2 linked regions of the Homo sapiens genome follow. The protein of the gene in region 2 purifies or fractionates together with the protein of the main gene of each other region. This does not show direct contact. Each region holds a gene or a part of one and is shown on either strand. Other genes may lie near its edges. The genes, in order: ZNG1B and NSUN3.

Region 1 (3,828 bases), on a different chromosome or scaffold from region 2:
TCACCCTTTCCTTTCAGTTTTCACATCACTGCCCTGTGAAACACTCATGTTCAGGGCCTCTGTCTCAGGCTTGGACTGGTTTTAAGATTTTCCTCATTGCCCTAAGTCTCTCCCATTCTATACTTCATATTTTTGTGATGTTGAGCTTCCTAAAGTACTCTAAATATAAGCCTTCATCTCTTAAAAAGCTTTGAAAGGAATATGACCTAAAAGATATTAATACCCTAATACTCTGTAAAATCTTCCTAGTTATATACTAGAAAACTTAATGTATTTCAGAAGACATGTATAGCCTACATGTAAAAGTTTTTAGCAGCACTGTAATAGTAAAACACTGGAAACAAACCAAATGTCCAACAAAAAAAAAAGATAAAGAAATGATATAGTCATACAATTGAACTACAATACTATGCAGTTAGGATTTTCTTTTTTTCCTCTATGAATTTTAGTGTGTACGGTTCACAAGACTATTTTTTTTCTACTGGAGATTGACATATTGGGTTTTATATGCCACCTGCTGGATAAAGTTGGTATAGCTTTATGAATTTATCTTACTGAACATTCTGTCCATTGTTGACACTACCTGGCTCTATTCCCCATTTCATAAAAACTTTTATAGATTGTTTAAAGCATACTATAAGTAGCCATATAGTCAGCCTGAAGTTGCGTCTTGTTAATGTTGAAATAAAAGGTCATTATAAATAAAAGATTGTGTGTAAATTTTAGGGAAGGTTAGGCTAGGTTGAAGAAACTGTTTCAACTTGTAGGAGTGTTTGTAAATATTTATAAAATTTTATGTCTACATAAAGTATTTTGCAACAGGTTTCAAAGGATGCTTTAATCTTATCCTCTAGGATATTCTATACTAAAATAATATATGAAAAATAGCACGCAAATTCTCAAAAACGTTAGGATTCTTTATATGTTTTTTGTATCTTTAAAATTATTTTGAATTTTTTTATTTACAAAAAATATGTTTTATAGGTGCTGGGAAGACAACACTTCTGAACTATATTTTGACAGAGCAACATAGTAAAAGAGTAGCGGTCATTTTAAATGAATTTGGGGAAGGTAAGTAAAGTTCAATAAATGTCATGTTGCAAGATTTTGTGTGACTGTTTATTCCTCTGGTGAATTGCTATTCCATATTTAAAAATGAAAATGCAAGGTATTGTATTGATGTGGATAGCTTTAGAAAAGTTGGATTAATTTCTGTTAAGATTTATATGGGTTGAGATACTGAAATTAGTTTTAATAAAATTTTATTTTGTATAACTTTGGAATTCTTATTAACAGAATTAAACTACATTTTTACATGAAATAAATGACTCCAGAAGTAAAAATCTAGACATATGAAAAAACGTTTATTTTTTATTTTATTTTATTTTTTTTGAGATGGAGTCTCTCTCTGTCGCCAGGCTGGAGTGCAGTGGTGCAATCTCAGCTCACTGCCACCTCTGTCTCCTGGGTTAAAGTGATTCTCCTGCCTCAGCCTCCCGAGTAGCTGGGACTACAGGCGTGCGCCACCATGCCCAGATAATTTTTGTATTTTTAGTAGAGACAGGGTTTCACCATGTTGGCCAGGATGGTCTTGAGCTCCTGGCCTTGTGATCCACCTGCCTCGGCCTCCCAAAGTTGCTGGGATTACAGGCATGAGGCACCATGCCTGGCCAAAAAATGTTTTTTTTAGGAATTAGGAAGGCACTTTTGTATGGACTCTATTGCAACTCATGAAAAATACTTGAAAATGCTTCTGTTATTAGTTAACTTTGTTTAATGTTTATTATCTGCAATGCAGTTAAAACTCAATATTTTAAAAATAAAGGTAAACATATGGTCTTTATCCTCATGTATTTTAAGTTATCTGTGAAAATAAGTGTGCTTAACTTCTCAACTGAAATATTAAACTGTAGTCAAAAAAATAGCTCTAGACACAATACTTCTGTTATCTTTATAGAAGTTTTTCTTCATAAGTATGAATTGTAATCAAAGCTCACTTCTAGCCAAAAAACAATATCTATTAAATGATTTCTTTTAAAATGTACTATTTTTTTTCAGTTGTAAAAAGTAAAAGAGCTAGGTTTTATGAACAGGATGGGAAGCCAGTTATATTCGATTTCTGGTTTTAATAAACTAAAGAGAAAAGTGCTTTTTAGGCAAAAATCCTGAGATTTCTAATAACAGACTGTTTTTTTATCATCTTATTAAATAACCTATTGCACACTGATTACATTTATTCTTACTATTTTCTTTATTTTTTCCTGGATCATTTTCGCAATTTTATTTTTCACAGCATTCTCAATACTTTTCTTCATGTTTCCTTAATGTTCTGTATATAGTCCGAATTCTGTAGCAACCTCTTTAGAAGCTCTTTATTAATACCTAGCTGAAATATAAAAAATACGTAAGTGTAAAACTACTCGATTTTATGGGAGCTCATTTGCTTAGTGGGCTTTTAGAACTTCACCGTTTGGTATATTTCTTTATTAGAGGAAAAGTAAAACATTTAAAATAATTCTTATAGATAACAAGCATTTCAAATATAGTTTATTCTTTCTTAAGTAAGTATTGCTAGGAAAATATGTGAATTTGACTAAAAGTTTAGGTTTTTTTTTTTTTTGAGATGGAGTCTCGCTGTGTTGCCCAGGCTGGAGTGCAGTGGCACAGTCTCGGGTCACTGCAACCTCCGCCTCCCGGGTTCACGCCATTCTCCTGCCTCAGCCGCCTGAGTAGCTGGGACTACAGGCGCCCGCTACCACACCTGGCTAATTTTTTGTAATTTTAGTAGAGATGAGGTTTCATTGTGTTAGCGAGGATGGTCTCGATCTCCTGACCTCGTGATCCGCCCGCCTTGGCCTCCCTGTAAGTTTAATTTTTAAATGAGCACATGGTACACTGGCCAAAAACCTTCCTCAAGATGAACTAGGGTTTTTACTCATTGGGAATATTCAGCAGTTTGTCTAACAGAAACAATTTAGAAGAAGAATGAAAAGAAAAAGATAGATAAGGCAGTCTCTTAAGAGGTTGAAGGGCATACAAAATCCAGTATATAAAACATACTAGTCTATTTAGAAAGTTTACCCTGGACAAGAAAAAAATGCCTTCAAGATAGCTACTTTATTAAGAAATGGGGGTGGCCAAGTAAGAGGCCTAAGGAGGAAGTAGGTATGTTTATCAGTTTAGGATGTGTCTTTTTCAGGGCTTAAGTCATCTTAAATAAAAGCTAACATAATGTAGTGTACTGTAATTTAGATATCGAGGCTGCATGAATAAAATGAAAGAATATAAGTTATAAAATGCAGTTTCTGCTTTAAGATCTCCATTATTGAGTTATCCTCATCTTTGTTTTTTGTTGGCTAATGGACATAAGCTAAAGAGTGCTGTTTGTTAATTATTCTAGGAAGTGCGCTGGAGAAATCCTTAGCTGTCAGCCAAGGTGGAGAGCTCTATGAAGAGTGGCTGGAACTTAGAAACGGTTGCCTCTGCTGTTCAGTGAAGTGAGGAATGTGTTTACTGTGTACATGGTTTACTAGAAATGTTTATTGATTATATTTCCAGCTTTAATTTTCTTGAGTAATTTAACTGAATTTACACAGTTTGCTTCATTGTATTTTCAAACAAATAGAAAATAAACTTATTAGGAAGCATTTTCTTAAAGTGTTTCTTGCTGTCTTTTCTATCTGCTCTAATGTTTTGGTCCTTTTATTGAGTTTTTATTGCTTTTGATGTCAGGGCTTATTTAATCTCTAGTGCATGAAAGTCTCATATGTAAAAAATGATTATTCTGAATTTAATCTGTCATTGGTCATATTTCTAAGTGTTCAACCT
Region 2 (3,600 bases):
TTAAAATTTTTATTTTATTTTTATTATCACACAATAACATTAATAGAAACTATTCTGTCAAGATAGTATTTCTGGTTCTCTCCCATTGACTTTGCCTGAAGCCACTCCAAATTCTGACATTACTCTTAATGTTTTCAGGACAGATGGTATTAGAGCTTTCAGCAAAAGTAGTAGATTATCAGCATATATTAGTTAACTTGTGAATCTCCATCTGAATATTCTTCAGATACCCATGGGATCTGTGTGATTTTCTAGCTTCAATGTCAGCCTGAAGAGTAACATCAGAAATGGGCATCATCCTTACTTCCCTCCCCAGTGCAGCAATAAGGCAGGGAAAGGGAGATTGTAAACCATTGATTTAAACCATATAAATGGATTGAAAATAAATTGTGCTATCTGCTTTATTTGTCCCCAAAGCCAAATTTACCTAACACATAATACAAGTAGTCTCATTCAATTGCATCAAAGGACTTTTTGGCATCTAATAAAATTATTGCTATTGGTTCTAATTTTCTCTTTGTATTCCAGATGAGTTGCATTCATCTATGCAGATTATCTGATGCTTATCTCCCAGGCATAAAGGCTTCTTGGATAAGGGTCTATTAGATTTGTGATTATTTGGTCACATAGCCAGGTGTGCAGGTAGCTATTATTTTCTACCTACCCACATTGTATGAAAGAATATTTTTCACAATACTGCTAAGGAAGTAATATGAAATCTTGAGTATAAGGTTATAGGAATATACATAATAAGATAAAGAACTGCAGGACACCTTGATTTCCAACCACAGATAATATCTGATGCTTAAAAAAATTCAGTACAAACCATTTAAATGCATTACATTTATTCAGTCTATTTCTGAAAGTAGTGGCTGTTCAGCGTGTGGACGGCAGGGAGAAGTTAATGTGTTGGTAAGCAACCTAAATTTTTATAAAGCTATTTTGAAAGTAACTCAGTGTCACAGAAAGTAATATCAATTACTCTTTGCTTTACAATTGACACTGCAAGTCTGCTCCAAATTTCCATTCTTCAGCTCAGCATCTGCAAAGAAAAGGAAGGCAGAGAATACCCTCCACTGGAGATTTCTGGGTATCAAAATCACAAGACACACTTCTTTACAATATGGCCTGAAACAGTTCAAAGGTTGTTGTTTTTTTCCCAAGTATTGATTAATCCTTTCATCCCCTGGGAATAGGGTATGACACAAAAGGAGGAAACTGAACAATGGAAAATAGGGGTAAAGTCAGTTAATAATCTTGAGGGTTCAAACAACCTACACTCTGTGAGACAGCATAGTGTTGGGAAAAGGGCCTGGACCTCGGAGCCAGTTTTGATCGCGGCTCTACCCTTTAACTATGAAATATTAAGTAAAATGATTTATAATTAGCCAAAGAGAAGGTGAGGGAAAACATGCATCCTTTTTTACAACTAATAATATATGAGGCCGAGCACAATGGCTCACACCTGTAATCCCAATACTTTGGGAGGCTGAAGTGGGAGGATCACTTGAGGCCAGGGGTTTGAAACCAGCCTGGTGAGGTCACATCTCTACAATAATAATAATAATAATAATTTAAAAATTAGCCAGGCATGGTATTGTGGGCCTGTAGTCCAGGCTACTTAGGAGGCTGAGGCGAAAAGATAACTTGAACCCAGGAAGTCGAGGCTGCAGTGAGCCATGATGACACCACTGCACTCTAGCTGGGTTGGGGACAGTGGGAGGAACTAAATTCCATTTGATTCAAAGTGAAAAAAAAAGGGTTGAATGAAAATGAAACTTTGCTGGCTTTGCAGGACTGGCCTGGCACCTGACCAGGAAAGGTTAAAAAAGGTCAAACAAGGCTCCCACTGTGTGGCTAGGAAGAGGTTTCTGGAGAAATGGATTTGGAGGATTTATCTGGTAATTCTCAATCATTCAGCTGTGGCCAAACTGAAAGCCTGTGAGCTGTACCCCTGACACCCAGAGTGTGGAAGCCCCAGAGGCCGAAGTCCCTTGGAACATTCACGTTCTCCCCTGGGATGGGGATGAGGAGGCCATGCAGAAAGACATGTTCTGAGAAACCAGTGATCTAAGAAAATAACATGTTACAAGACCATGTTTTTTCTAGTTTTAGAACATTTTATATAACTCATAAGTGTTTGTATAAAAATTCACGCAAAGTTGCTAGAGAGCATACAATTTCCAAAAATGTCCTGGGTTTTTGTTATTTTCAGTTTTCTAAGGATGCACTCCAATCAATGGAAAAATGCAGACATTATGCAAGATTTCATTATCTTTGGTAAAAGTATTCTCATTATTTTGTCTCTTCACAGTATTAACTCTGATATCCACTTTGTGCAGGGTCTGCTATTACTAGGATGTCATAAAAATGTTAAAGCTGGATCTACAAGAGGCAAGTATTTCCAAACAGCAGTAATAGCTCCTTGGCCCCCACCCCCACTTCATATATCTATACAGTCTGTCTATACATTGGCTGAACCCTTTACTTACCAGTGTAGCCTTGGCAAACTATAAACAGAACTGAGCTTTGGTTTTCTCATTCACAAAAGGGGGTTATAATACTTATTCCTGAGTTTGTTTTAAGCATCAATAAAGACAACATACACAGTGGGTGTGGTGGCTCACGCCTGTAATCCCAGCACTTTGGGAGGCTGAGGCAGGTGGATGACAAGGTCAGGAGTTCAAGATCAACCTGGCCAAGATGGTGGAACCCCATCTTTACTAAAAATACAAAAAAAATTAGCCAAGCATGGTGGCGGGTGCCTGTGATCTCAGTTACTTGGGAGGCTGAGGCAGAAAACTGCTTGAACCCGGGAGGCAGAGGTTGCAGTGAGCTGAGATCATGCCACTGCACGCCATCCAGCCTGGGCGACAGAGCAAGACTCTGTCTCAAAAAAAAAAAAAAAAAAAAAAAAAGACAACATATATAAACAATTTATAGAATATTCAATGCTCAATATTACCTATTTCATTATAATTATGGTTTATCTTCTCATTAAAAAATAATTTCAGCTTTTTAGATTCAGGGGATACATGAACAGGTGTGTTACATGGGTATACTGGATGATGCTGAGGTTTGGGGTACAGACGATCCCGTCACCCAGGTAGTGAGTGCAGTACCCAATAGGTAGTTTTTCAGCCTACATCCCCCTCCTCCCCTCCCCACTCTAGTAGTCACCAGTGTCTATTGTTCCTTTATGTCCATGTGTACTCGATATTTAGCTCCCATTTGTAAGTGAGAATATGTATTTAGTTTTCTGTTCCTGAATTTGCTTAGGATAAAAGCATCCAGCTGCATCCATGTTGTTGCAAAAGACATTATTTCATTCTTTTTTATCACTGTGTAATATTACACGAGGTATATGTACCACATTTCCTTTATTCAATCAACTGCTGATGGGCGGTTAGGTTGATTCCGTATCTTTACTATTGTAAATATTACTGTGATGAACACACAAGCGTTTATGTCTTTTTTTGTAGGACAATTTATTTTCCTGTGGGTATATACCCACTAATGGGATTGCTAGCTCAAATGGCAATTCTGTTATAAAGTTCTTTGAGAAATCTCCAAACTGCTTTCCATAGAGGCTGAAGTAAT

Evidence for each region.
Region 1: the proteins of NSUN3 (region 2) and ZNG1B purify together in Homo sapiens (affinity purification with mass spectrometry; one large-scale study listed by BioGRID and IntAct). This does not show direct contact.

The regions. Positions count from the first base shown.
Region 1 is NC_000002.12:113,440,367-113,444,194, forward strand, and holds part of ZNG1B (zinc-regulated GTPase metalloprotein activator 1B), read left to right. Parts: intron 1-984; coding exon 985-1,071; intron 1,072-3,400; coding exon 3,401-3,497; intron 3,498-3,828. UniProt on the Homo sapiens protein: Zinc chaperone that directly transfers zinc cofactor to target metalloproteins, thereby activating them.
Region 2 is NC_000003.12:94,129,061-94,132,660, reverse strand, and holds the end of NSUN3 (tRNA (cytosine(34)-C(5))-methyltransferase, mitochondrial), read right to left. Parts: 3' UTR 829-3,600; downstream 1-828. UniProt on the Homo sapiens protein: Mitochondrial tRNA methyltransferase that mediates methylation of cytosine to 5-methylcytosine (m5C) at position 34 of mt-tRNA(Met). mt-tRNA(Met) methylation at cytosine(34) takes place at the wobble position of the anticodon and initiates the formation of 5-formylcytosine (f(5)c) at this position. mt-tRNA(Met) containing the f(5)c modification at the wobble position enables recognition of the AUA codon in addition to the AUG codon, expanding codon recognition in mitochondrial translation.